Linked DNA regions of Homo sapiens: all the other regions are linked to region 1. The links come from fine-mapping of genetic effects on gene expression. A gene starts in region 1. Each other region holds a variant in brackets. All regions are shown on one strand. Distances are between the middles of the regions.

Region 1 (10,925 bases):
AGGACATAGATCAGAAATATTCTCTAGATCCCACATAAATCACCTTAGAATATGTGGCAGTCATTTAGAAATCAGAAACTGGTCGGGCACGGTGGCTCACAAAAAATACAAAAAATTAGCTGGGCGTGGTTGTGTGTGCCTGTAATCCCAGCTACTGGGGAGGCTGAGGCAGGAGAATCGCTTGAACCAGGGAGTCGGAGGTTGCAGGGAGCTGAGATTGCACCACTGCACTCCAGCCTGGCAACACAGCAAGACTCTGTCTCAAAAAAAAAAAAAAGAAAAAGAAAAAAAAGAAATCACAAGCTAATGTAATCTGGTTGGCAACGCCAGAAGTTAGGAGGAGTAACTGGATAACAATAGAAAACTTTAAATATTTGTTCAACAATTTCTTACTAAATATTTCCTACTGCAAGTCACTGTGGATGTGCAAGAAATACTTTCTACCTTCTAGAACCTTACAAGGTAGTAGGCAAGATCACATATTTCAATGAGTATCAAAACTATTGGCTGAGCGAGGTGGCTTAGGCCTGTAATCCCAGCACTTTGGAAGGCCGAGGCAGGCAAATCACTTGACTCCAAAAGTTTGAGACCAGCCTGGCCAACATGGGGAAACCCCATCTCTAGCAAAAATACAAAATGCAGGCCTCACGTGGTGGTGCACGCCTGTAATCCCAGCTACTCGGGAGGCTGAGGCATGAGAATCACTTGAAGCTGGGAGGTGGAGGTTGCAGTGAGCCAAGATCACGTGACCGCACTCCAACCTGGGTGACAGAGCAAGACTCTACTGAAAAAAAAAAAAAAAAGAATGTGGCCTTATTTGGAAGTGGGCCTGTTGTAGATGTAATTAGTTAAGATGAGGCCATACTAGAGTAGGGTAGGCCCTTAACCCAATATAAGGGGAGAGACAGGAAAGGAGAATGCCACCTGAGGATAGCGGTAGATATTGGGGTGATGCCACTGCCACTGCAGGTCAAGGGATGCCATGGACTAATGGTCACCACCAAAGGCTAGGAAGAAGCAAAGAAGAATTCTCCCCTACAAGTTTCAGAGGGCACATGGCTGTGTTAGGTCATTCTTGCACTGATATAAAGGAATACCTGAGACTGGGTAATTTATAAAGAAAAGTGGATTAATTGGCCCACAGCTCTCCAGGCTGTACAGAAAGTATGGGGTCAGCATATGCTTCTGGTGAGGCCTCAAGAAGCTTCCAATCATCAGTTGGAGACAACATTGGAGACAACAGCAACAGGAAGGTCCCTCTCACCTTCCTCTCGCTCTTCTCCCCTGAAGCAGGCCATAGCACTAGCAAAAGCGTCTCAGGCCTTCCCCTGAAGGCAGACCTAAGACTGTTATTCAAGAGGTGCCCTCCCTCTACCCAGACAAAGGAACATCCTTATCTCTGAAGACACAGGACCACAGAGATAGACTTCTGCCTTCTCGGCAGAAGGCAAAGGGGAGCCAGCATGTCACATGGCAAGAGAGGGGGCAAGAGAGAGAGTGGGGGAAGGATCAGGCTCTTTTAAATAACCAGATCTCATGTGAACTACTAGAGAAAGAACCCCTCATCCAAGGGGATGGCACTAAACCATTCATGAGGGATCCACCCTAATGATCCAATACCTCCCACCAGGTCCCACCTCCAACACTGGGATCACATTTCAACATGGGATTTGGAGGGGACAAACATCCAAACCATATCCAATATCCTTGCCAACACTTTGATTTGGGACACCTACCCTCCTAAACTGTGAGACAACCAATTTCTATTATTCCCCAGTTTTGTGGTACTTTGTTATAGTCACCCTAGGAAACGAATGTGACAGTTTTATAGTTAGGTTATAAACAAAATGTCGTGAAAGATCATTTCTAGCAGCCCTGGAGCTTGTAAAGGACATGGCTTTGTGCTGAGCTCTAGCAGCATGGTTTTGGTACGTAGAGATGACATAGAGGAGAAACGGCTTTATGTTCTTCCATGTCCATCCGAATTCTATGTTGAGGTCTAACCCTCCTAAGCAGCCTCTCTGGAAAACTAGTTGAACTTGAACCTAAACCTACTGTCAACTAGGCCACTAACTAATATGACTTTTAAGGCACAAAATCAGGGAGAACAGAATCTTTTATACATGCTTTATTACTCAAGCAGCAGTGTGCAGTGATTAAATACTTACTCGCTTTTACTACATTTCTCTGACACAGCAAAGGGTGACGTCTTCTTCATGGAGACTTTAGTGAGCAGTAGCTAATTTAAAGCTCAGTGTAGGCCGGTCGTGGTGGCTCACACCTGTAATCTCAGCACTTCTTTGGGAGGTGGAGGCGGAGAGGGGTTGGGATTCCTTGAGCCTTGGAGTTCAGGGCCAGCATGGCAACAGGGCGAAACCTAGTTTTTACAGAAAATACAAACATCAGCTGGGCATGGTGGCGGGCCTGTAGTCCCTGCTACTCTGCAGGCTGAAGCAGGAGGAGTGCTTTAGCAGGGAGGTCGAGGCTTAAATGAGCCCAGGTCGTGCCACTGCACTCCAGCTTGGGCGACAGAGCGAGAAGACCCTGTTTCAAAAAACAAACACAAAAATTCATTCTAACCAAAACTGAATGCTAGTAGCAGGAACTGGTATGAAGATTGCGGTCTGGAATCCCTTCTAATGCGTCTGACCTTGCATTGTGAAGTCTTCACAGTGATGCTTCTGGGTTCTATATGATTATCGTCATTGCTTAGCAACCTCTAGTTGTAAATAAATTCTTTAAATTTCCTTAGTCGTTTGCGGGGCAAGGAGAGGGTCATTTACATGCCCTTTCCTTCTCGCTACTCAATCTTAAATTTGGGTTACGAATCAAACTGATGGACCCTACATGGCTTCTACCCGAAATTACAGGTATCTACCGTTCCATCTTCAAGAAAGGGAGGGGTTCCGCCAAGATGGACGAACATAAAAATCACAGGAGGAGCCTTCTAACAATGTGCATTCTTCGCACACTGAGTGGGGAATGGCCTTGTCATGTTTGAAACAGTGCCCCAACTACTCAATGTCCCAGGAACCCCAGTGGAGCGAGTTCTGTACACAGAGAGGGCCAAGATCCACAAATCAGCTAAGGAATCATTTCCATAGTCTCCCTCCCCTATTGAGTCTCGATCCACAAAAGCTATCCCCTGTCCCTCTCATCCATCAAGGGCGTGTTTTTCGCCTCTCCTTCCCCGGCCTCCCGCGTCCGCCCAGCCTGTCCGCATCCAGCCCCGCCACGCCCCATGGGCGGTCCCGAGCTGCGGCCCCGCCCCCTCACCGCCTCCCCGGCCGCGGAAACCCCGCCCCAACGACGCGGAGACCGGGGGCGGCCCGCGGCCCGCGGCGGGCGGGCTGGCGGGGACGGACGCGGGGGGAGGGGGGCGACGGGATGTGGGGTGGGGGCGGGGCCTGGCTGGGCGCCGGGACGGGAGGAGTCCCGGCGGCGCCTCGGACTTTTGCTCCCACAAGTCCTGCCTCGGAGGCGGGGGAGCTGGACCAGCAGCCGCCTGGAGCGTCCGAGTCACCGTCGCCGGGGCTCCCGCGCTCCCCAGAACGGTGGGACGCGGGGCTCGGCAGCCGCCAGCGGAACATGGCGCCCTGGACGCTGTGGCGCTGCTGCCAGCGCGTCGTGGGCTGGGTGCCGGTGCTCTTCATCACCTTCGTGGTCGTCTGGTCCTACTACGCGTACGTGGTGGAGCTCTGCGTGTGTGAGTACCGTCCCCGGGGACTGCGGCGGGGCGCGGGCCGCGGCTAGGGCGCGAGATAGGCCTCTGCGCCCCACACCCGCCGCCTTTCTGGAGCCAGCGCCGGACGCCGGGCGTCCGGCCCCGAACGCGCTCGGAAGCGCCGAGGTTGCTGCACCCGCCGCTTTGTTCAATCCTGCGGCGCGGCCTTGGGGCGACCTGGGGCTCCTGAAGCCTTGCGGCGGCTTCCCGGGTGCAGGTCTGGCCCAGGGAGGCCCCAAGAGCTTCCTGGTTCCCGCCGACACCGGGGGTCTGCATCCTTCTGGGAAGGAACGTGCAGAACGGGAGTAGTCGAGCTTCTTAGAAGGTTTAGGTTGTGTTTGTGGCTTTTTTGGCTTTTGTTCATTTTTTTTAAAAAACCAAATCTGTTCCTTCTGGATTGTTTTTGTTCAAACTGCGCGAGAAGAAACGCCTGTTACCTGTAGAGCCGGCTGTGGCGGGTTGGGGGAAGGGAGGTGTGTCTTTTGGTGGCCTCGGGCTGGAGGCGGGTCAGACCTGGAGGACGAGTAAGCTCCCACTTTTGATTTTTGGTGGTACTCGACTCATTGTAAAATTCGTTTATTTCTACTCTGAATCCAGCCGGCTTTTGCAGAAGGTTAAGACAGAAAGAATGGGTGGGAGGAGACATAACCTGATTATTTTTTTCTTGGCTGATTATTAAGGAGGCTTATATTTCTTATACTCATATTTTGGCGTGTTAATTTTCGTTACTTCCATTTTCCTGATAAGTTCTTAGCACAAAATTCTCATCTGATTCCCTGGAAAAAAGGAGTAGCATTGCAGTATACTTCAAGGATTTAACCTACTGGCTTGAATTGGTTGCCTTTAAGATTGAAGGAAATTGGTTGTCATTAATCAAAAACACTGTTTAGGGGTGACTGCTACATTTGTGATATTGGGCAATTTCTCCAACATTGTTTTGTCTTAAGTAAATTGTTCTTAGGCTTTGAGTATGTGGGTATTTTACACTTAAACTGGCCTCAACTAGGGTGTTCTGTATACATCTGCTGCCTATATCAATTTTTTATGAAAACCTAGGACCAAATGGTAAGTGGTGTTTGTAAACGTTATTGTTATTCCAGAATGTTCTACTCTTAGTCCTTAGACTGAATCTACCATTTTATGAAGGACTGTTAAGTGTTCTTTGAATAACGAACCACATCAGCTAGAAACTAATGTTATGAATGAGAAGAATCTGTACCACCCACTCTTGAAAGTGGCAGAATCAAGACTTCAATTATGTTTGGATTTGTACAGCTTTCAACCAAGTATTTGGTTAAAACCCTAGTTCTATACATGGAAGAGAATGCTTTGGCTCAGAAAATTTATAAGTTTTGAAATTAAAACATCCAGTTTTAAAATTACTTTGTACCTATAGAACGTTTAATTTTGGGACGACTATCCCTGCAGGTAGGCCCAGAATAAATTAGTTGTGGAATACATTTCCAAATAATATTAATCTTTTCAATATCATTGTTTAGTCTCATGCTTTTGGATACCAGAATGTTTACTAAAAATGATGTTTGAGTCAATTAAAATTACTAGATTTTAATATTTCTGGGAGCTACTTCCAGAAAGTGGTAGTGATCATAGGATTCTCATCAACTTATGATGATACCTCCTTTATCTTCTTATTTACTCTGAAGTGGGCATTTATTCTAAAAGTTATGTCATTCCTATTCTGTCAGAAGATTATTCCTACCGTATTTTAATTCCCGTAGTGGTTTTGAAGTAAAGCTGAAGGAACACTAAAAATGTGCATTTATGTTGAGATTCCACAGCTTAACCTGTAGATGGTTTTTGTCAAAAATATTAAGAAATGAGATCAAACAGTGCTGTGAAAAGTCTTAAATTGCTTCTGATTTCTTTCACCACTTCAAATAAAGAAGGAGAAATGAACATGAATTGAGAAGTGCCATGTGCTAGTGGGCATAGAGGGGACATTTCATTCACCCTCTCCTTTAATTCTTTCAGTATGTCACAGCATAGGTATCTCTACAGGTGGAGGACGTGAGACTGAGCGAATAGGTCCTTTTGGTTAGGTCACACAATTGATTATTGGAATGTGACCCACATCTTTCCGTTCTTTCATATAACTTCAGTAAGCTATGAGGGTCAATGGAACTGTAATTGTTTGGTCCATAATGGTGTGGGGGGATAAAGGGGTTGGCATATTTTTGGAGATCACTTAGTTAGGCTTGAGGCCCATTCTGTAGAGATTATACCCTACAATTTCATTAAGTTAAAACATTCTATAACTATGGCCTGATGCTTGGCAGAATCTTAAAATATTTGGTGGTGAAAGGTCTTATGTAGAGGCTGTATTAACTTCTGAGTTATCTCATTTTAACTAGAGAGAATTTGGGAGGTCTGCAGTGTCACTGGAGTATAAAATAGTTGAGCATAAAAGTGCATTTACTCATATTAAAACTATCCTTTAAACTACTTGTATGTATTTGTTTTCATAAGTACTGACCCTCCCACTGAAATATGTATAGATATATTACTTTATAGGAGGACTTAAATGGAGGGAAGTGTGAGTTTTACTTAAAAGTGCTGTTTTAATACTTTTATAGGATATTCTTTTTATTTATATATGTATTTTTTGAGCCAGAGTTTCACTCTTGTTGCCCAGGCTGGAGTGCAATGATGCGATCTTGGCTCACTGCAACCTCTGCCTCCTGGGTTCAAGTGACTCTCCTGCCTCAGCCTCCCAAGTAGCTGGGATTACAGGTGCCCGCCACCATGCCCAGCTAATTTTTTTTGTATTTTTAGTAGAGACGGGGGTTTCACCTTGTTGGTCAGGCTGGTCTCAAACTCCTGACCTCAGGCAATCCACCCACCTTGGCCTCCCAAAGTGCTGGGATTACAGGCATGAGGCATTGTGCCCGGCCTATAGGATATTCTTAGATTCTGGTATTCTTTATCAAACTAGGAGGAGAAGATCATAATTATATCTTTACATGTATGTATTAATTCATTTAATCTTAATAATGATCCCCATAAGGTTAAGTAATTTGTCCACGGTTATAGAGCCAGTAAGTAGCATGGTAAGAATTGGAATTCAAGGGGTTTGGCTCCAAAGCCCATGCTGTTAACCACTATACAATTAATGACTAATCTATTTGGTGTCCAGATCTGGACACTCAGGGCAGATTTCAGTCCTGTATATGATATATTTATATAAAGTACTTTTCTCCTAAAAGGCAGCTGCAGAAGATTCCTAAATATCTCAGACAATAAAAATACCTGGCCCACAGTTGGCTGTAAGTTGAACAAATTGTTGATTACCAAGAGGCCCTCATTCCATCTTACCCTCTGTAACTTGCTAATTGTGTAATTAGACACACACACACACACACACACACACACACACACACACACCACTTCACTGGGAGTAATACTGAGGACAAAATTGAGGAAGAGGGTAATGCATGTAAAACGGCCATCTCACAGGAGTGATAAGCTGAGAAGCGAAGATTAAGTAATTAGTAATATTGGTCCTTGATTTTAAATTAGACTGAAATTCTCGTATGATTTTTTTTCCCCAGGGTTGATATTTAAAGTACGAATGGATTGAATAACTTCTTCTCTTTGGTCAAGGTGGTTATTTTTGAGGCAAGTGCTAATTCTGGTTCCCAAGGTTTTATCAGAATATCTTGTTGTTCAGGTCATCTTGTTAGTGGATGTGTACCTCTTCTTTGGCATGTAGAGAATCTTAGAACTTAAAGAGATTTTAAAGATAATCTCATTCAGTCCCTTTACTTCTGATGAAACTATTGCTCAAAAGAGCTATGTTGGCCAGGCGTGGTGGCTCACACCTGTAATCCCAGCGCTTTGGGAGGCCAAGGCAGGCGGATCACGAGGTCAGGAGATCGAAACCATCCTGGCTAACACGGTGAAACCCCATCTCTCTAAAAATACAAAAAATTAGCCGAGTGTGGTGGCGGGTGCCTGTAGTCCCAGCTACTCGGGAGGCTGAGGCAGGAGAATGGCATGAACCTGGGAGGCGGAGCTTGCAGTGAGCAGAGATTGCACCCCTGCACTCCAGCCTGGGCGACAGAGCGAGACTCTGTCTCAAAAACGAACCAACAAACCAACAAACAAACAAACAAAAGAGCTATGTTGTTTGTTCAAGGACAGGTATACCTTTTATATTTTTTTCAGACAAATTTGTGGAGTGGACTCTAACCTTTGAGTCTGTATTAAATATTTACTTGTGTCTCCTGCATAACTTCTTCAAATTTAGAGGCAGATTAAGATAAATAACTTAAGCACTATCATTGTACATGCTAGCTTGACACTGTTGATTCTGAAGTATTTTATTGATATTGAAAGAACCAGTTTTCTATTTCATTGATTTTTCTCTTTTCTGTTTTGTTGTTTTCCTGTCTGATCTTTACTATTTCCTTTCTTTTACTTTGGGTTTAATATGCTCTTTTTCTAGATTAATGTGGAAACCAAGGTCATTGATTTGAGCCCTTTCTTAGGTAGGTAGTCCTATAAATTTACCTCCAAATACTGCTTTAGTTTTATTCTATCAATTTTGATATGTTGTGTTGTGGTTGTCATTCAATTCAAATTATTTTCTTGGGCTGGGCACAGTGGCTCACCTCTGTACTACCAGCACTTTGGGAGGCTTGATGAAACCTCATCTTTTTGTTTGTTTGTTTTTGTTTTTGTTTTTGTTTTGAGATGGAGTCTCATTTTGTTGCCCAAGCTTCAGTGCAATGTGGCGATCTTGGCTCACTGCAACCTCCTCCTCCTGGGTTCAAGCAATTCTCCTGCCTCAGCCTCTTGAGTAGCTGGGATTATAGGCATGTGCCACCACGCCCGGCTAATTTTTGTATTTTTAGTAGAGATGGGGTTTTGCCATGTTGGCCAGGGTGGTCTTCAACTCCTGACCTCAAGCGATCCACCCACCTCGGCCTCCCAAAGTGCTGGGATTACGGGTGTGAGCCACCATGCCTGCCAAAACTCCATCTCTACAAAAAATACAAAAAATTAGATGGGCATGGTGGCTTGTGTCTGAAGTCCAGCCTACTCAGGAGGCTGAGACGGGAGAATACCATGAGCCCAGGAGTTCAAGGCTGCGTTGAGCCATGATTGTGCCATTGCACTCCAGCCTGGGTTACAGAGCAAGACCCTTTCCCAAAGAACAAACAAATCCTTTTATTTTGTTTTGTTTTAAGACAGTTTTGCTCTGTTGCCCAGGCTGGAGTGCAATGGCGCAATCTCGGCTCACTGCAGCTTCCACCCTTCAAAATTCAAATTATTTTCTAATTTCACTTTTGGTTTGATCTTTGACCCCATGGATTTAGTTTCCATTTATTTGGGGGTTTTCCAGATATCTTTCTGTTATTGATTTCAAATTTCCTTGTGGTCAGAGAACATACTTTGTATGACTTAAATCCTTTAAAATGTATTCAGGCTTGTTTTATAGCCCAGAATGTGGTCTGTCTGAGCTGTGTTCCATGTGTGCTTACGAAAAATATGTCTGTACTCAGCAATGTATTGTGCTGTTTGTTGCTGGGTGGAGTATTCTGTTATGTCATAATGCTCCATAAATGTCAGTTAAGGCAAGTTGGTAGTGTTATTCAAGTCCTCTATTTTCTTGCTTTCCTGTTTGTTCTCTCAGTTATTAAGAGAGGTATAACTATAATTGTGATTTATTTCTCCTTGTAGTTCTATCAGTTTTTGCCTCGTATTTTACATCTGTGTAATTAGGTGCATAAAACATTTAGGATTGCAATATCCTATTGACCAGTTGGCTCACTTAACATTATGAAGTGACTTTATTACCCCTGGTGATATTGTTTACTCTGAAATCTGCTTTGGCAGATATTAACATGGGCACTAATCTTTCTTTTAATTATTGTGAGCATGATGTATCTTTCTCTGTCCTTTTAATGTGTATGTGTCTTATATTTAAATTGTAATTCTCGTAAAGAGCATATATTTGGGTCTTTTAAAATCCAACCTGAAAATCTCTGCCTTTTAATAGGGGGTTTTGACCATCTACATTTAATGTGATTATTGATATAGGCTTAAGTCTATCATTTGCTCTTTTGTTTTATTGTCTGTCCTCTTCTTTGTTCCATTTTCTCCTTCTTTGACCTTCTTTTGAATTAATTGATCTTTACAATTTTTTTAATTTTGATTTTTAAAAATGATTCTATCTCCTTATTGGCATATTACTAGTAATTCTTTTTGTTACTTTATTGATTGCTTTAGGGCTTATAACATGTGTCTTTGAGTTATCACAGTCTACCTTCAAGTTACGTACTGTTTCATATATAATACCTTATAAAAGTATACTTCTATCTCTTCCATCTTGGCCTTTATGCTATTATGGTGCATTTTATATGTTGTAAACCTCACACTGTATTGCTACTATGTTTAAACAGTTGATTATATTAATAGTTTTTAAAGATTTAGGTTTAAAAAACCCAAAATATATGTATTTATTCCTATAGTTACCATTTCTAGTTCTCTTCATTCCTTTTTGTAAATCCATCTAGTGTCATTTCCTTCTGCCTGAAGGGCCTCTTTTAACGTTTATTGTAGTGCAAGTCAGCTGGACTGAATCATTTCAGTTTTTGTATGTTTGTAAAAGTTTTAATTTTGCCTTTAGTTTTTAAAGACAACTTGATCGAGACATAGTTTGCATGTCATAAAATTCACTAATTTAAGATGTACAATGCAGTTATTTTTAGTAAATTTGCCAAGTTTTGCAGTCATCACAACAATCCGTTTTTTGAAAATTTCTGTCGCACATTAAGATCCCTCATGCCCATTTACAGTTAATCCTTCTTCCCACCCCCAGCCCAAGGCAACCACTAATCCATGTTGTCTCCAAATGCCTTTTCTGAACATCCCATATAACTGGAATAATACATGCTTGCAACACATATACTAAAATTGGAAGAGTACAGAGAAGATTAGCATAAAAACCAAGAAAAATTTAAAAAGGGAAAAAAATAAATGGAATCATACAATAAGTGTTTTTTTGTTTTTTTTTTGGAGATGGAACTTCACTCTTGTTGCCCAGGGTGGAGTGCAATAGTGTGATCTCGGCTCATTGCAACCTCCGCCTCCTGAGTTCAAACGATTCTCCTGCCTCAGCCTCTCAAGTAGTTGGGACTACAGGTGTGTGCCGCCATGCCCTGCTAATTTTTTTTTG
Region 2 (8,000 bases), 82 kb before region 1:
GTAACCTCTACAAAATGAAATTAAGTTATGTAGTGCTGGTGTTGTTTTTGTAATTATGATTATCAAATAACTTTATTTTGGCCAGGGGCAGATTTATTGGATCTATAAGAACACTTAATGTGTATCAATGCAGCTTTACTATTTTAAGTATTAAAAGGCTCACTTACCTATAACAGGATATGCTGTATCTGGATTTTACTTCATAAATCCTCTGTAAATAGTGAAAACCACATGGTGGAATCTCTAATATGGGTGGAATCCTTTTAAAACATTTTACTTCCTGAACCAAAATTCCTAGTGCTTCAAGATCTATGCCGCCTCCTACAAAAACAAAAACCCCTAATGTGTTTTTCTTGTTTTCATATTCATACAATGAAACATTACAACCTCAATTCTAGATCTTTTTTCCTGTTTTTTGCCCCATTCTGTTATTTTCATACATAAGTGTGTGAATACATATCAAATAGCTGTGAAAATAATGAGACTGAATTTTTTATTTGTGTGAATGTGGAAATAGCCAAAGAAAGAGAGACAGGAGTGTCCCCCTACCCTACATTGAAAAAAACAAACTCAAACAAAAACAGAAGGAAAAATTAGATTATTTGCCAGATGGGTTTTATCCTTAAATAGAAAAATATTGTCCAGAAATACTTAGGTGTATTTAATATGCTCTTGCCTTGTTACTGCTGTAGGGAGAAAAAAGGTCATGGCTCCTGCTGTGCAGGTCAGACCATGGACCTCTTATTTTGCTGCTCAGCCATGAACAAGTAGTATAGAGTAAGCATCCTGGGTGAGACAACTGTCTACCAAGAAAACCCTGCCAGAGTGTTCTGGATTAGAAACACCACAACCTCTCATAATACTCAGGGAGAGGTGCATTAACTGAAGAGAAAGAGGAAGCAGGAGAGAACGGGTGTTCATTCCTAGTATCTTTGCCTTGTCTTTTTTTTTTAATCTAAAAATGAATTTTATGTAAGAGACTAGCTTCTAAACTTTTAATCAAAAAGTTAATTTCTTCATTATTTTCTAATTATTTATTCCATTTGAATTAAAAAAATTTAAAAAGATGTTTTTACAACTTAAACTGCATTAAGTATCTGGTTTTCTCCTTTTTGATGATCAAATTTTTATATACATGTCAAATAGAACTTGTAATCTACATTAAATAATGAAAAGCAGCAAAACTGCCTCTATAATCGTACCATGCATAATTATTCAGTTTTGTTAAGTGTTGAAAGTAGGCCGCAGGCTCTTTTTACTACTGTCATGGAATTCAAAGAGTCTAACACCTGTTTTTGAAAAATCTATATGAGATATGAAAATAAATCCTTCAAGGCCCATATTGTTACCTAATTCCTCTTGCCAATTTGTTTTACATGTAAAGTGGGGATATAATAATTTATCCAAAAGACAGGGACCTGGATAAGAAGACATTGTGAAATCTTTTCTGATTTGTTTATTCAGTTACTCATTCAACAAATATTTAAATGTTTAGCACTGACCTACATAAAAGTAAGACAGGTATGAAATCTGCCTCCATAGATTTTATAATTTACTTTTTACCTGTAATTCTGGTGTTATATTATTCAATCAATTCATGACTTTATTGTGGTATTTCATTCACATAGTATTGAATTTTATTGGCTTACCTGTTTGGCAGCCAGACTTCTAGCTGGAGGGAAGCAAACATTACCTTCTTTACTCACTCAGTTTCAAGTAGAAGGATTTTTTTTTTTAACAGATTTTTGAAAGACCAAAAAGGAATCTAGCCTTCAAACAGATAACACCCCTTAGAAATAATCTGATTTCTAAGAAACTCTTAGACACCATCCATTTTGCTACCTTAAATTCTTGATCCTCTTCTGCCTTCAAAATGTCAATCATTGCTTTCTAGACTACTTTAAGTTGGATGTAAGGATTAATCCGCTTTTTAAAAACAGATAAGACTAATTTTAGTTGTCTAAAAATAAAAGGGTACATGGTAATGACTATTTGTGGCGTAACTTTAGGACAAGCATAGAAATAATGATCAGTTTCTTTTTTAAGTTAATTGACTATGTAAAGATAAGTAAATACATGTATTACACAGTTTTTTGGAGTTCATTATCAGCATTATATGACTACGTATTATATACACATTCACTCACTTAGATTTGTCCAATAAATGGTAATTTTTATCTATTTGATTATCTGATACTATAACAACACCTAACAGTAGAATCTGGGGCTCTTTGTCTTTGGCTGGCACATAATAGTTTCTCCAGTGAGTAAAAATTATCCCAAAATAACAACACCTAAGCTTACAAACATAGTCATAGATGTTTCTAAAAAGTATGTAGTCATATTCACAAGTAATGTTTTGACTAATAATGTAAAAATAAAATCCTGACAGTTTACTAATACCAAATAATAGAATTTGCCCTTGTAGATTTATCGTCCAAATTAAACAACCCAAACTACAGAAAAGCCACATCTAAAAGCACTCTTTTTTAATGTGCCACCTGAATTTCTACAGACTGCGTAATTGTGCTGAAGGAACTTCATAGACAAGATAATTTTGAGAGCAATAAGTAAAGTTAGTGCTGTATATTGCTTATGTAAGAAACAAAATAAAACATTTTTCAGTTTTGTTCTGGATGTTTAAAATGATTTGAGGCTATCATCAGAGTAAGTCCTAAAAAAAAGAAACAATGTAATAGCTTTAGAATTATGGTGGATATTAGGAAAATGATGTAGGCAGTAAAGAGGGTGGCTGAAAACCTGAAAGAATTTTAAATCTCTGTTATCCAGTAGGAAATTATTAAAAATAACTACTTTAGAATGGATGGTTATGTTGGCTAGACTTTTACATTTGACTGGAGAGTTATAAGCCTAAGAGGACTTTCCAGAGTTCAAAAAAAGGAAGCTTTATAAATCATGAGTGTTTTTTTCTAAATCAATGAAAGTAAAAAGAGAGTGATTTTAATAATCATGTGAAGAAATTATGTTTGACAAGAATTAATAATATGATTCATACAACTAGGATAAATCATAGATGGTTATATACAATTTCATATGTATGAAATAGGGTGAGTGAAATTGAAAATGGATCTTGTGAAAAACTGTAGTGTCTTTGTGTTTAGTCTTAGAATTCTCTGACTCATGATTATGGCTTAAGGATATTAGCTAAAATTACAAGCCTTTGCTTTTTAAATAAATATTTAGTTGTTTGTTTTGTCTTTTAAATAATTTTCTTTCTTAGTGCAAGTTGAGTTTTACCAAAGAATATGGATACTAAATAATGTTTCTTATTTGTTGTAGGTAAAACTTCAGTCAAGAAGCTGACAAAAAAGGTAAGCATCATGTTGTGGGGGGCAGGGTTTGTTTTTGGTAAGATAGAAAATGAACTTTTGGCCGGGCACGGTGGCTCACACCTGTAATCCCAGCACTTTGGGAGGCCAAGGTGGGCGGATCACGAGGTCAGGAGATCACCATCCTGGCTAACACAGTGAAGCCCTGTGTCTACTAAAAATACAAAAAGAAATTAGCCGGCTATGGAGGTGGGCGTCTGTAGTCCCAGCTACAAAGAAAATGAACTTTTAGAAGTTTAATTTTAATATGTGTATTCAAAGGACATCGAGGATACACTGTCAGGGATCCAAACAGCTGGCTGTGGATCAACTTTTTTCAGAGACCTTGGCGATAAAGGTAATTTTGGTTTGTTGTTAAATTTCTAGTTATGTGTTTTATTTAACTGAAGTATTATTAAGGAATTAAGGTATGAGATTTGTACCATGTTATTTAATAGGTGTTTTTAAAACATGAAGTAAGGAGGTAACTTTTTCAAAGTCTTTGAGCAATTACAGATAAATTATTAAAACATCAATGTTTTAATGGATGAGGGTATGAGGCAGAGTATCTAAAATAAAAGATGAGAAGCCTTCAAGGGCATCCAGAGGAGCCACACCACTTAGGGGAGTGGACGGAAAGAGGTCATGGCAGAGTAATCAGAGAGGTAGAGGAATGCCAGGAGAGTGTTATCACAGAAGCCAAGCAGAGAAAGTGTTAAAGAAAAAGGGAACTTATCAAATGTCAAAACCAAGTAAATGTAGGGAGTTGAGTGAGCTAAGGACTGAGAAGTATCCTCTATATTTAGCAGCTGGAAGTGTTTGACATTTTAACAAGTACAGTGGTGCCTTGTTATCTATGGGGTATTGATTCCAGGACCCCCCTTGGATACCAAAATCCAAGAATGCTCAAGATCCTGATATAAAATGGCATCATATTTGCGTATAACCTACAAACATCCTCCCATTTAGTTCAAATCATCTCTAGATTACTTATAATACCTAATACAATGTAAATGCTATGTATATAGTTGTTATATTCTGTAACTCTATTTATTTGTATTGGTGTGGGTTGTTTGGGGTTTTTTTTTTTTTTTTTT[G/TTTG]AGACAGGGTCTTGCTCTGTTGCTGGGTTGGAGTGCAGTGGCGCAGTCATAGCTCCCGGCAGCGTCAAACTCTGGGACTCAAGCAGTCCTCCTGCTGCAGCCTGCTGGGACTACAGGTGTGCACCACCATACATGGCTAATTTTTTTTAATTTTAGTATAGACGGGAGTCTCACTACATTGCTCAGGCTGGACTCAAACTCCTGGGCTCAAGCAGTCCTCCTGACTTGGCCATTGAAAGTAATGGGATTACAGGCATGAGCCACCACACCAGACCTTTTTTTTTTAATATTTTTGATACACGGTTGGTTGAATGCATGGATGCGGAGGGCCAACTGTACAGATCAGTGATAGGATGAGATCTAAAGCCAAGTTGCAGAGCACTGAGACGTGAGGGCGGATATGAGAAAAGTAAACGCAGACCTCTTGAGAGACATGGTCATGAACAGAGGAGTTAGAGGGTAGTAGCTAAGGGTAGAGAAAAAAGGCCAAGAGAATATTGGTTTATTTTAGGTGGTGAGCATGTTTCTTGTTGATGAGAAGGAGAGGTGGACAATACAAAGGAAGTATGAATAGGACAAAATCCTGGAAAATAGGAAAGAAGGGATTGTCTTCAGAACAGGAGTGGAAGGATCAGCATTCCACAGGGAGGATGTCTTTCCCACTGTATCAGGAGAAAAGGGTGAACAAATGAGCATTTTATGCAGATATTTGCAAATTACTGGCAAGCAAATGAGGGAGGTGTTTTGGAGTAGCCTTGATTTTCTTTATAAAATAGGATTTAGGGTGAGGTGCGGTGGCTCACGCCTGTAATCCCAGCACTTTGGGAGGCCATTGAGGCCGAGGCAGCCCGATCACCTGAGGTACAGAGTTTGAGACCAGCCTGGCCAACATGGGGAAACCCTGTCTCTACTAAAAACACAAAAAATTAGCCAGGCATGGTGGCGGGTGCCTGTAATCCCAGCTACTCAGGAGGCTGAGGCAGTAGAATCGCTTGAACCTGGGAGGCAGAGGTTGCAGTGAGCCGAGATCATGCCATTACACTCCAGCCTGGGCAACAAGAGTGAAACTCTGTCTCAAAAAAAAAAAAAAAAAGAAAGAAAGAAAATGTTGGATATAGTAGGTCTGAGCTTTATGGAGAAAGAAGGTTTGAAGTAGCTTCTGGGATATGGAAAAAGAACTGATGAGAGAAACAGACTTCTGGGAATCCTTCAAGGACTAGAAGAGAACATAGATTATGAAAGAATGAGTCATTGATCAGTGTAGTTGTAGATTAGAATAGTTGGACAGTTAGGATTTGCTAGGCAGAAGAATGGAGGAAGTCACGGCCTAGGGAGTTAACAGTGTTAGGAGCAAGAGAGGTTTTAACTAATGAGCCATGGAGTTTAAGCAGAGACAATAGAGAATAAAGTAAAATAGGAAGAAAAATTTAAAAAGAAAGTAGGAAAGTCAAGAGGGAAAAAAATCCCCTTTTCATGATAAACTCCAGGAATAGAAAAAAGCCTAGAGAGAAAGCTGCCAGTGAGGTTGAAAACAGATGTAGTGGATGTCCAAGAGCAGAAAACAACCATGGTCATAGAGTAGGTGTCTGAATTTACAGTTTCTAAGCTGAAGCACTTGCAGGTGATTTCAGGGTTCAGGGAGTGACCGTAGAAATAGACAGCTAAAATAGAAGTTGGCATAGTTAATTTAGTGAACCTTATCAAGGATCTGAGAGATGGACCACTCTTATTTTATAAGTGTAGAAAAAGTGTTCACCTGAGATTGGTGATAAATTAATTATTGTTTCCTGTTGTCTAAAGAAGGAATTGGAGAATTAAGAAACAAATGTAATTTCTAAATCAGTGGTTTATAACCTTTCATTGAATGCAGCAGAGCTTTTACAGTTATCTCAAGAGATTTACAACATTCTCAAATCAACATTAATTTTATGGCTGAGTGCATTAGCTCACGCTTGTAATCCCAGCACTTTGGGAGGCTGAAGCAAGAGGATAGCTTGAGCCCAGGAGTTCAAGACCAGTCTGGGCAGTATAGCAAGTCTCTATCTCTACAAATAATGTAAAAGAAAAATTAGCCAGGCGTGGTGATGCACACCTGTAGTCCCAGCTACTTGGGAGGGTGAGGTGACAGGATCGCTTGAGCTCGAGAGGTTGAGGTTGCAATTGCAGTGAGCTGTGTGTGGTCACCTGGGCAACAGAGCAAGACCGTGTCTCAAAAAAAAAAAAATTTAGTTTTAAATTGAGAATAAGTTTATCATATAACACTCCATGGAGAAGAAAAATATGACAAAGGTATAATAACTCCATAAAATCAATATTAATCAGTTATTGTTTATTGATAAATATCTATTTCTGTACATTCTGTATCAATATTTAGTGGACTTTCATTATATTCTGTGAGTATTAGTTCCTTATACTAAACTGTCTACTTATCTTTATACCCACTTCACCCCACCCTTTACCAATTCCTTCCAGTCATAGCACCAGAACATCCCTATAGACTTTGAGGTTAACAAGCTCCTAAATTTTTTATAGTGGGAATTTACTGGAATGTAGTATATGGTTAGTGAACAAAAGTGTGTGTTTTGAAGTTGACAGACTTAAATTCAAATTTTTCCTAGTTTTATGACCCGGGGAAATTACTTAATCTCTTTCATCCTCACTTTCATCACCTTTTAAAATAAGATAGTAATGCCTTCCTTATGGGATTGTTGAAAGAATTTAATAAAATAAGATATTTTAAACATTTATAGTATCTGGTATGTAGCCTTAAAAAATATTAAGAACATGGGTTTTAAGCCTGGTTTAGATTCCTAGCTCTATTAGCTGTGTAACCTTGGGCAAGTTGGTTTTAGTTTTCTTGCTGTGTGTCTGGTACATTTTAAGTTTATAATTGGTAATATTGCTATATTTTTTTGTAAGATTTAATATTAACTGAGCCTTAGCCTCTTAATGAGTTTGTAAATAAATGGTATTTTTAAAATCATAGTTAATAAATATTTTGTAAGGTTTTACTTTAGGAAATTACTAATTTGGCATTTTAAAGTAGATTTTAAGCAAGATGTTTAAATTTCAAGTACCAATATTTAGATCAGAGCTATGGCTTTGAGGTACCTTTCCATAATATAGACTTTTCTGGAAGCATTTTGAGACTCTTAAGAAAGATATTTACCAGTTGTGAAAACTCAGATAATCTCTGTGGATATAAACTGAGTTATCTTATGATTATTTGATGTTTTTTTCCTGAAGTAAGGAAGGCTGGGGAGGGTTCTATAATAATTTTGATCTAAAGGCAGAATATGAGAGCCAGAGTAGATTAATTCAGCTTTTGTGTAAAACTCTACATAAATATAATGTGATTTTAGAAATTCTATTAAAAAGTGTTTTCAAGAAAAATGAGTAAAATAAAAACTGAAGAGAGAAAATTTAAATCATCTTAAGGAAAAAAAAATTGAGAGATAAGAGATTAATCTTCAAAAACTGAAAAGACAACCCCATTTCAAAACCTTAGAAGCATACCGTGCTTCTGAAAAGAAGTACCTGTACAGCTTCATTGCTGCATTCACAGTCCAGACTC
Region 3 (10,925 bases), 85 kb after region 1:
AGATCGCAGGCACTAGGGGTGGAGGTCACGTCGGGCAGAGTCAGATCGCAGGCACTAGGGGTGGAGGTCACGTCGGGCAGAGTCAGATCACAGGCACTAGGGGTGGAGGTCACGTCGGGCAGAGTCAGATCACAGGCACTAGGGGTGGAGGTCACGTCGGGCAGAGTCAGATCGCAGGCACTAGGGGTGGAGGTCACGTCGGGCAGAGTCAGATCGCAGGCACTAGGGGTGGAGGTCACGTCGGGCAGAGTCAGATCGCAGGCACTAGGGGTGGAGGTCATGTCGGGCAGTCAGATCGCAGGCACTAGGGGTGGAGGTCACGTCGGGCCGAGTGCGCTGCAGTCAGAAGAGGAGCTGTGTCCCGCATACGGTGATTGTAAGCCAGGTCCATGCCACCAAGAGCTGGAGCTGTGGAGTAGTACTTGGTCCCCAGAAAAGCCCTCAGTCTGAGGTCCACATTTCTTCTTAATGTGGGCAGAAATAATTGCTGATGCTTGTGGTGGTTGAGAATCCTCAGCTGCAGTTCCTTTAACAGTTGCTGTGGGAAGTTTTCTACATCTTGCGCCAATCTTAGGACAGGTGTAGGTGGACCAGATGTCTTCTCAGATGATGTCCAAGTTAGCAGTCTGGGAGTACTGTAAGATTCTTCCTTTTAAAATACTCTTTTGATTGCTTCTGGGGAAGACAGTAATACCCACTCATTTACTGCTACAAAAATCTTTATTGTTATAATATTAGTAGTGTTAAGGAATTCATTTTCCATCTTGTTATATTAGTAGCTTTGTACCTTAGCCCACAGAACCATTTAGTAAATATTTTCAGAAATAAAAAATCAAGTTTTAACCAATAATTTGTTTCTTTTTTTGTAGGTGTATGAAAACATTATAGACTGGTATTTTCAATTTTCATTTGCAAGAAAATGATCAGTGGAATGAAATAACTGAAGTATAACAGAAGATATATTTTTTAAAACGGAAAGCCTTTGTACAGTTCCTGGGATTCACAGAAGCACTACTCCAGAGCAGAATGATGCCTTAATCTTAAGTGTCCATTTGTGCAGCATTGACTTAGAGCTACAAAAGTGACTTAATGTTATTCTGGAAATAATACTTACCTGTTATGAGTTGCTATAATATGAGCTGTCATCACATTTTAACATGCATATGTATTTTTTGATACCTGAATTACATTATTAGAATAAGTATCCATATACATTTTCACTCCAAAAACACAAGCTTAAAAACTTTAAAGTACATCTAGGGCAAATGGTGGCTGAAAGTGAATAATATTCAAATTACTGTTGCTTGTACTGTATAAGGAAAACTGCTTTTTTAAATTGGGTATTTGCTAATTTATAATTACTATTTTATACTTTTCAACATTTTTAATAACTTTTTTTATTGTTGGCTATAACAGAAGGATTCAGATATCTAAATATCATTTAGAACATAGAACACATTGGTCTAATTCATCGAAAGCTTAGTTATGAGCATTAATACAACCATGTAGTAGAGCAAGTGCCCAAGGTTTAAAGGGAACTTGGCAGTATAAGAAATATTTTGGGTTCTCTCTGCTATTTTATAGCTTTTTTTGTTGAACTTTCAGGGGTATGTACATGGGCAGAGAAACACAAAGGTACATGTGCTGGAGAATACTGGACACAGTAGGAAGAAGTATAGGTGTCCAGAAGAAAATCTAAGAGGAATATTGTAATTTGTTAAAAAAAATAGTTTTGAGTTTTAACAGCAGTTAGAATAAAGCATGCTGTTGACTTCACTTTCAAATTTCAGTGTAGGTAATGACTAAAAATTACTTTGAAACTTTTTACAGTAATACTGTAATAGCTTAAACAGTGATTTAAAATGCAATTTAAACTAGGCAAAAAAAACTTTAGAGTAAGTTTTCCTCCTGGCTGTCAGTTGGAAATTCTAACCTGAGTGGTCATTTTACATTCCCAGTCTCTTGAGAAGTGGATTCTACTCTTAGACGCACAGTCTGAAGTCTGACTTCCTAACGGCAACCCCTTTATGACTAGACACATTTCTCCTTTTTCCTTTTAAAATCTAAGCGACAGGAGGTGTTGCATTAACTCCAAGGAAAAGTACAGAATAAACAATGTAGAAATGTCACTCCTCATTTACACCTTTTAGACAGACAGACACACACACACACACACCCCCCCCAAAATAATTGATTGCTTCCAGTGAGTGGGTGGAGATGAATCTCAGCAGCATCTGTGAGTACTACAGGTTGGAGCTTCCTGTCTGTAAAATGGGACTGCAGGGGAGGGGGTGTTGTGAATAAGTTGGACTGGATGACTTCTAACATTCTGTGATGCCTAATTTTGCAAAATCACTTTTCATTCACCCAATAAATTTTTTTCTTCTTTTTTCCACAGAGTTTTGCTCTGTCTCCCAGGCAGGAGTGCAGTGGCGGGATCTTGGCTCGCTGCAACCTCTGCCTTCCAGGTTCAATAGAGTCTCCTGCCTCAGCCTCCCAAGTAGCTGGGATTACAGGCTCATGCCACCATGCCCGGCTAATTTTCACATTTTTAGAAGAGACGAGGTTTCACCATGTTGACCAGGCTGATCACTAACTCCTGACCTCAAATAATCCACCCACCTCAGCTTCCCAAAGTGCTGGGATTACAGGCGTGAGCCACCACGCCCCGCCCCGGTAAATTTTTTGGAGTACCTTCTGTATGCTAAATAATAAACTAGGAATAGCTCTGTCATTTCCTAGTACAGCATAAATTTTATGGTTGCTACTGTAGGTTTATAATTTGTTTATAATTTGGCCTAATTTCCATCAGCCATACTAATATTGGATTTTAAAAGGAGGCAACTTTTTTTCTTTTTGAACCAAAGGAATGAGTTAGCTTTGAAAACATAATTTGGGATATTATAGTATGGATTCTTCTACCTTTGTTTCAACTCCTTAGTAATCTTGATTCTAGCAAACTAGAATGAGATTTAAGAGATACCAATTATTGCTGGGTGTGGTGGCTCATGCCTGTAATCCCAGCACTTTGGGAGGCCAAGGCTGGCGGATCACCTGAGGTCAGGGGTTCGAGATTAGCCTGGTCAAAATGGCAAAACCCTGTCTCCACTAAAAATACAAAAAAACCCCAAAACTGTCCAGGCATGGTGGCACACGCCTGTAGTCCCAACTACTCGGGAGGTGGAGGCAGGAGAATCACTTGAACCCAGGAGGTGGAGGTCGCAGTGAGCCGAGATCGTGCCACTGCACTCCAGCCTGGGCGACGAGTGAAACTCCATCTCAAAAATATATATATATATCAATTACCAACTAAAAACATAACTCCAGTTTGGCAGTTTGCATATTATAAGGAGATAAATGTTAAAACATACTTGACTACTTTCAGAAATGTTCTCCTGGTACTTTTTGCATTTCTACATTCAGATAAAAAGATTTGCATGCACCTGGCTAACGCCAAGGGAACTTCATTTTTTTCTTCACTATTATGCACTTTCATGGTATAGTCTTTCTCAGTTCTTTTAATTTTTGTTATTTAACATCTTTAATAGCACAGCAAACATCTTTTCAGAAATTTTCAGTTAAAGCCTTTGAATTACTTATCTTTGATTTAATTTACAGCCAGCATTTTGCCACGTTCTAAATAATATTTAGCTCAACTGATTCATACGTATTAATGACCATTCTAGCAAAGGCCTACAAGTGGTGTGGGAATCAGGGAAAGGCTGCCTCTTTGGTATCTCAACTGGTATTGATTATTGCTATCAACTATTTGGGGAGAAAAAATCAAAATGAAGCCCTGTCAAATTTTAGAAGTACTATCTTTGGTCCTTCAAACACTTTGTGATGACACCTTAAGAAAAATAAAGTTGAAGTTCAGGTCTTGCCATTGCCATTACAGACAAATTAGGAGACTTGGTTTACCTGGGAACAAATTTACTTGAATATTCAGTACCTGAAACTATGCCAAACCAAAGAGCAGCTGCAGTACATTCGTTATTTTAAATGAACAAGTTTACAAAGTTTATTTTCATCTATACGTAAGGATGATTTTTTTAAAACTTTTTACATATTAGTGGTTATGATCCAATGTGTCATGAGTGAATTTAACTGTAAGGTGGTTTAAATCAAATATGCAATGTTTACTTGAATTGTATTTCTATTAGCAGATTTTGACTATGTTTACAGGACGGTTTAAATTAAGGATTATCAGGCATGTGAGATCTTTCAGTTATCTTTAAAGTAGATGTATATTAAGGGCTTAGATTTAGGATCTACATATTCTGGGCATTGAATAGGCAGTAACTTACAAATAAGTTTTGCTTACCTTTTGTTCTAGGGACTAGCACTGCTATCAATGGAAAGTATTTTTAACTAATCTGTTATTAAGAAAGTCATATTTTTGCATTTCAGCCAAAATAAAGACCGCCTGTAATAATCTGTTAGAAACAGATAATACATGTCTGAAATCCATATGTTTCATATGATCTAAACTGTATTTTCCAATTTAAATTAAAAATGTAATATAGATTCAGAAAGGTTCATATTTTTCTAATGACTTCATTCTATATTATTTTGTTAGGTTGCATAAAGAAGCAAGGAATTGTACTTGTATTAAAAGATGAAGAAAGCTATTAGGTATATTTGTACATGACTGCAAATGAGTCTATGCCCGTTTAAAAGAAAAGATGGACACTATTTTAAAGTGAGCTTTAATATGCTTTTATATAAACAAATTTGAAGTACAGTTTAGTTTGGTTGTGTTTACCTAACAAGTACCATAAGCCTTGTGTTTGTTCTTATTTGTATAATCCTAGCCTGTGACTTAATGTTGATGCTTTGCTTTGTCTTTTGGCTGGCCTAACCTACATTGACATGTACACAGAACATTTTAAAACTTTTTTTTTCAAAAGTCATAATGAATTACTTTATTAATAAACAAAGTCTTGTATTTGAAGTGTTTTCTTTGTTATAAAGTGGTATTTACCAAATGAGAGAGTAACTTATGTTTATCAACTTGAAAATCTGGTAAAATAGTGCTTGGTTAGAGAAAGAGATTGGCTAATAGTTTGGGGAAACCACTTTTAAGATAGGTATTATTTTAGTGCAACAAAATTGTTGTTTACTTAGGTTTATTCAAAACCTAAAGAGTTTAACTTAGCTTTTTACTGAACATAATTTAATTTCAGAAGTCATTTAGGATCTTGAGAACCTTCAGATCACTGTAAGTTGTTGAATTGTGATTGTTAAAATGCTGAATAATTAATAGATTTTATTATGTAGAATTATTTTATGGCATCTGTGTTCCAGTGCCCTTCCAAAGAGGCCAAGTTTGTTATTAAAGCCATTTAAAGATTTCCTGTAGCTATATTTATAAAAATTGAAGTATCTCCACCAGAAAGGAAAGATCTTGAAGACGGGTAAAAATATCAAATTGCAGGCCGGGCACGGTGGCTCATGCCTGTAATTTCAGCACTTTGGGAGGCCGAGGTGGGTGGATCACTTGACGTCAGGAGTTCGAGACCAGCCTGGCCAACATGGTGAAACCCTGTCTCTACTAAAAATATAAAAATTAGCCGGGTGTGGTGGTGGGTGCCTGTAATCCCAGCTACTTGGGAGGCTGAGGCAGGAGAATCACTTGAACCCAGGAGGCACAGGTTGCAGTGACCCGAGATCGTGCCACTGTACTCCGGCCTGGGTGACAGAGCAAGACTCTTGTCTCCAAAAAAAAAAAAAAAGTCAAATTGCTGAAATCTGCAATCTGCATATAATGTGATCCCACTTAAGAGTTTTACAGTATCCATGCTGTGTACCTGTGTGTTAAACTCAGCCTATTAATTGAGCGCCTACTCCAGGGAATGGGTGAGTAGTGGAAATAGAGCCACAGGCATCCTGCCTTTCCAGGCAGTGGTCCTGTGTGGGGTACAGGCATACAGGTACAACACCCCTCTGGGTGTTAATTGATAGAGGGAGTGAGAAATGATGGCTTATGGTTTGTCTCATTCAGCCACCGGAAGTGACAACCCTCTA[TTTAG/G]AAGATTTACCAACTATGATCCTGTGCATATAATGTGGACCAGCTGCTGTTAAGTTTTTACCGCAACCTTCTAAAATAAATGTGAATTATTTGCAACATGTAGAGCCTCTCTAGATGTGGAGAGGTTGTCAACGATGCTAAAAGTAAAATGAGAAAAACTTGTTTTCCAACCCTTTTGTTAAGATTCACTGGAAAGGAACATTGCCTTCTGGAAATCACTTACGGGAATGCAATTTTTACAGCATTTCTTGGACTCATGCCCTCGTTCGTTTCATGGGTTGAAGGAAGGGCAAAAGGCAGTGAAGGAGGGGAAAGGTTCCCGCCAGAATGTGCATTTAGAAGCATTGATCCACAGGCGTGCTATTACTCAGCACTCCTGTGGATACAATGATAAACTTCACTCAGCACTCCTGTGGATACAATGTTAAACTTAGGTCCTTCATTCAAATGCCTGTATCTAGCTTTTCTACGTGTTTAGATGTGCTCACCACATATTAAAAATAGATGTGGAGTAGTGTTTGAAAAATATTGAAAATATTGAAAAATATTTTCAATACAGTCATCTCTTGGTATCCATGGGGATACTGAGGTCTGCTTGAGCATCCTCGGATTTTGATATCCGTGGGGATTGGTCTAGGACCTCCCACAGATACCAAAATCCACAGATGCTCAAGTCCCTGATATAAAATGGCCTAGTATCAGGCACAGTGGCTCACGCCTGTAACCCCAACACTTTGGGAGGCCGAGACAGGTGAATCACTTGAGCTCAGGAGTTCAAGATCAGCCTGGGCAACATGGTGAAACCCTGCCTCTACAAAACAAAAAAATTAGCCAGGCGTGGTGGTGGACGCCTGTAGTCCCAACCATTCGGAAGGCTGAGATGGGAGGATGAATTGAGCCCGGGAGGCTGAGGCTGCAGTGAGCAGTGATGGAGTCACTGCACTCCACCCTGGGTAAGAGAGCAAGATCCTGTAAGTAAATAAAATGGTCTAGTATTTGCATGTAATCTATGCGTATCCTCCCATATACTTTAAATCACCTCTAGATTACTTATAATACCTAATATAGTGTAAATGCTATTAATACATATAGGAGTTATATTTTTTATTATTATAATTATAATTATTATTTTTGAGACAGAGTTTTGCTCTTGTTGCCCAGGCTGGAGTGCAATGGCATAATCTTGGCTCACCGCAACCTCTGCCTCCCAGGTTCAAGCAATTCTGCCTCAGCTTTCCAAGTAGCTGGGATTACAAACGTCCCACTATGCCCGGCTAATTTTGGTTTTTTTTTTTTTTTTTTTTTTTTTTTTTTTTTTTTTTTCAGTAGAGACAGCGTTTCTCCATGTTGGTCAGGCTGGTCTCGAACTCCAAACCTCAGGTGATCCGCCCGCCTCAGCCTCCCAAAGTGCTGGGATTACAGGCATGAGCCACCGCACCCGACTTTTTATTTGTATTTTTTATTGCATTGTTATTTGGGTGAAGGGTTCCCTGAATATTTTTGAGCCATGGTTGGCTGAATCTGCAGATGCAGAACCCGTGGATATAGAGCATTGCTTTAGAAAGATTGTCTCCCTAATAGAAAGTGCTAAACCACCTACAGCTGTACCGCCCTAAACATGCCTGATGTCATCTGATCTTGGAAACTAAGTAGGGTCGTGCCTGGTTAGTACTTGGATGGGAGGATGTTAAACCACTGAAAATTACATTAATCTATGCTCTTCTCTGAGTGGTTGGAGGATAGGGAGAAGGGAATTATGCACGTTTATTTATTAGAAGTATATATTCTAATTTCATATGACACATTTAATGTTGCTGTATACATAGGGTATATAAAAGTATATGTTCTAATTTCATGACAAATATCGAGTTAGCAAATATATTTTAGGATACTGTTGGTTAAATTCAGAGGAAAGTCTTTTTTGTTTGTTTGTTTTTTGAGACAGAGTTTTGGTCTTGTCACCTAGGCTGGAGTGCAATGGTGTGATCTCAGCTCATAGCAACCTCTGCATCCCAGGTTCAAGTGATTCTCCTGTCTCCCGAGTAGCTGAAACTACAGGCATCTGCCACCACACCTGGCTAATTTTTGTATTTTACTAGAGCCAGGGTTTTGCCATGTTGGCCAGGCTGGTCTCAAACTCCTGACCTCAGGTGATCCACCTGCCTTGGCCCCTCAAAGTGTTGGGATTATAGGCATGAGCCACTGCACACAGCCAGAAGAAAATCTTTTAAACATTGCTTTTTTAAAAATTTTTAAATAATGTCAACATATTTATTTGAGAACAGGTGATGAGACTGGCTAATTTTTGTATTTTTCTGGTGGAGACGGAATTTCACCATATTGCCCAGGCTGGTCTCGAACTCCTGGGCTCAAGTGATCTGCCCACCTTAGCCTCCCCAAAGTGTTAGGATTACAGGCGTGAGCCACCACGCCCAACCTTCAACATTTAGATTGAAGGGGAACGTGCAGATTTGTTACATAGGTACATTGTGTTGGTCCTGAGGTTTGGGGTACAGTTGATCCCATTGCCCAGGTAGTGAGCATAGTACTTGATAGACCTACTGTCTACTGTTGCCATCTTTATGTCCATGTTTACCCAATAAACATTGCTTTTATTTTTTATTTTTTTGAGAGGGGTCTCAGTCTGGTGCCCAGGCTGGAGTGCAGTGGCACAAACATAGCTCACTGCAGCCTCAACCTCCTGGGCTCAAGCAATCCTCCCACTACACCTTCCTGTGTAGCTAGGACCACAGATGGGCATCACCATGCCCAGCTCATTTTTTTTCTGTAGAAACAGGGGTCTCACTTTGTTGCCCAGGCTGGTCTTGAACTCCTGAGCTCAATCTTCATACCTTGGCCTTCCAAAGTGTGGGGATTACAGGTGTGAGCCACCATGCCCAGCCCCAAACATTGCTTCTAGAAATGAAATTTGTAATCTACCTCTGTAGTATAACATATCTGTACTTTGCCCATTGGGAAGTGTTCTGAACCAAAATGTCCATATTCGGATTATAGCCATTATCCCCAATGTGCACTTCATTCTACAAACAGCTGTGTGTAGAGTGGATATATTAAGTCCATATTTTAATATCTAGTACTAGGTATTTTGAAGTGAAGATGTTTGTGACAAATTTTTAAAAATGAGATGGTGAACTGGAGTTGGCCCACAGGCCATAGTTAAGCAACCCCTATGTTAGCAGCTCCATGCATTCCACACCAGTCTCTATAGTAGCAAACAGGAAGCCCTGCTCCTCCCCCACAAAAAGTGACATTTTTGACACATTTTTGGGTTGTTAAATTCAAAACCCAATGTCCTTTGGCAGCATTTGTAAAGGAGGAAGGACTCTCTCCAACTGATGGTTTTTTTTTTTTTTTTTTTTTTGAGACGGAGTCTCGCTCTTTCACCCAGGCTGGAGTGCAGTGGCGTGATCTCGGCTCACTGCAAGCTCCGCCTCCCAGGTTCATGCCATTCTCCTGCCTCAGCCTCCTGAGTAGCTGGGACTACAGGTACCCGTCACCACAGCACCTGGCTAATTTTTTTTTTTGTATTTTTAGTAGAGACGGGGTTTCACCATGTTAACCAGGATGGTCTTGATCTCCTGACCTCATGATCCGCCTGCCTCGGCCTCCCAAAGTGCTGGGATTACAGGCGTGAGCCACTGCACCAGGCCAACTGATGTTCTTAAGCCATCTCTTTGAGCTGTAACTCATTAATGAACGCTTTACTGGAGAAATCAGAAAAGCATAAAAGGAATGGTTCTATTTGTTTTTAGAAAACACTCCAGATTATACTGTAGTTCCACTTAACACAGCTGTGTTGCTAGTGGATGAAATTAAGTCCCTTGTTTTGAAACACCTTAGGCTTCTGGGTGTTCGGAGGTGATGACACATGATAAAGTACAGCTAGTAGAATAATACATGTTATAAATATCTCTAATTATTTTAACAAATGAAATACTATTTTGTAGGTGGGATTGTTCATTCAGTACTTATTCCTGGGTTTGTGAGTGGGAGGGAGAGGCAGCACTAGGGTAGGTTTCTACAGATGTGTCTTTTTTTTTTTCTCTTTCTTTTTTTCGTTTGAGATGGAGTCTCACTCTGTTGCCCAGGCTGGAGTGCAGTGGCGCAATCTTGGCTCACTGAGACCTTCACCTACCGGATTCAAGCAATTCTTCTGCATCAGCCTCCCGTGTAGCTGGGATTACAGGCATGCACCACCATGCCCGGCTAATTTTTTGTATTTTTAATAGAGACAGGGTCTCACCATGTTAGCCAGCCTGGTCTCAAACTCCTGACCTCAGGTGATCAGCCCACCTGGGCCTCCCAAAGTGCTGGTGAGCCCCTGCGCCCAGCCAGATGTGTCTTTTTAGATGACAGGTGCAGAGTGATCTGTGCCTGTATTTTATATGGCTCTGGCTGTGTACACACTCTTTTTTGAGACAGAGTCTCACTCTGTCACCCATGCTGGAGTGCAGCAGCACAATCACAGCTCACTGCAGCCTCCACCTCCTAGGCTCAAGCAATCCTCCCACCTCAGCCTCCTGAGTAGCTGGGGCCACAGGTGCACACCATCAGGCCCAGATAATTTTTTGTATTTTTTGTAGAGAAGGGGTTCCACCATGTTGCCCTCACTGGCCTTGAACTCCCGGGCTTAAGCGATCTGCCTGCCTTGGCCTACCAAAGTGCTGGGATTACAGGTGTGAGCCACTGCGCCCAGCTAACACTGTCTCATTTACCATTACATTCCTAGTGACTAAAACAGTGCCAGACACATACTAGGCGGTCAATACTTTCTGAATGAATAGTGTAATTCCCTATATATGAACAATCACTATGTATATATGGAAACCTGGGAGGATGTATACCAAAATATCAACAGTAGTGTTTTCTGGTT

Evidence for each region.
Region 2: its variant is fine-mapped to the expression of ZDHHC20 in whole blood (INTERVAL, PIP 0.99).
Region 3: its variant is fine-mapped to the expression of ZDHHC20 in whole blood (TOPMed, PIP above 0.99).

What each region holds. Positions count from the first base shown.
Region 1 is chr13:21,451,835-21,462,759 of GRCh38, reverse strand. ZDHHC20 (zDHHC palmitoyltransferase 20) reads left to right here and starts at 3,457. Exons shown (of 13, transcript NM_001330059.2): 1 at 3,457-3,706. The coding sequence starts at 3,589. It overlaps LOC124903131 (a long non-coding RNA gene), which reads right to left and starts at 3,213. Exons shown (of 2, transcript XR_007063713.1): 1 at 2,581-3,213; 2 at 2,114-2,377. RefSeq lists a cis regulatory region at 3,216, an enhancer at 3,132-3,301 and a silencer at 3,165-3,544.
Region 2 is chr13:21,534,989-21,542,988 of GRCh38, reverse strand. It overlaps MICU2 (mitochondrial calcium uptake 2), which reads left to right. Exons shown (of 12, transcript NM_152726.3): 3 at 3,301-3,332; 4 at 3,612-3,687. Among named protein-coding and RNA genes, the nearest start is that of MICU2, 65 kb to the left of the region's middle. The variant G/TTTG (reference allele first, on the strand shown) is at 4,427.
Region 3 is chr13:21,366,600-21,377,524 of GRCh38, reverse strand. ZDHHC20 (zDHHC palmitoyltransferase 20) reads left to right here. Exons shown (of 13, transcript NM_001330059.2): 13 at 870-4,954. LOC124903130 (nitric oxide synthase-like) reads right to left here and starts at 836. Exons shown (of 1, transcript XM_047430813.1): 1 at 1-836. The coding sequence starts at 281. It also overlaps the pseudogene MIPEPP3 and the pseudogene RNA5SP25. RefSeq lists an enhancer at 65-581. The variant TTTAG/G (reference allele first, on the strand shown) is at 6,028.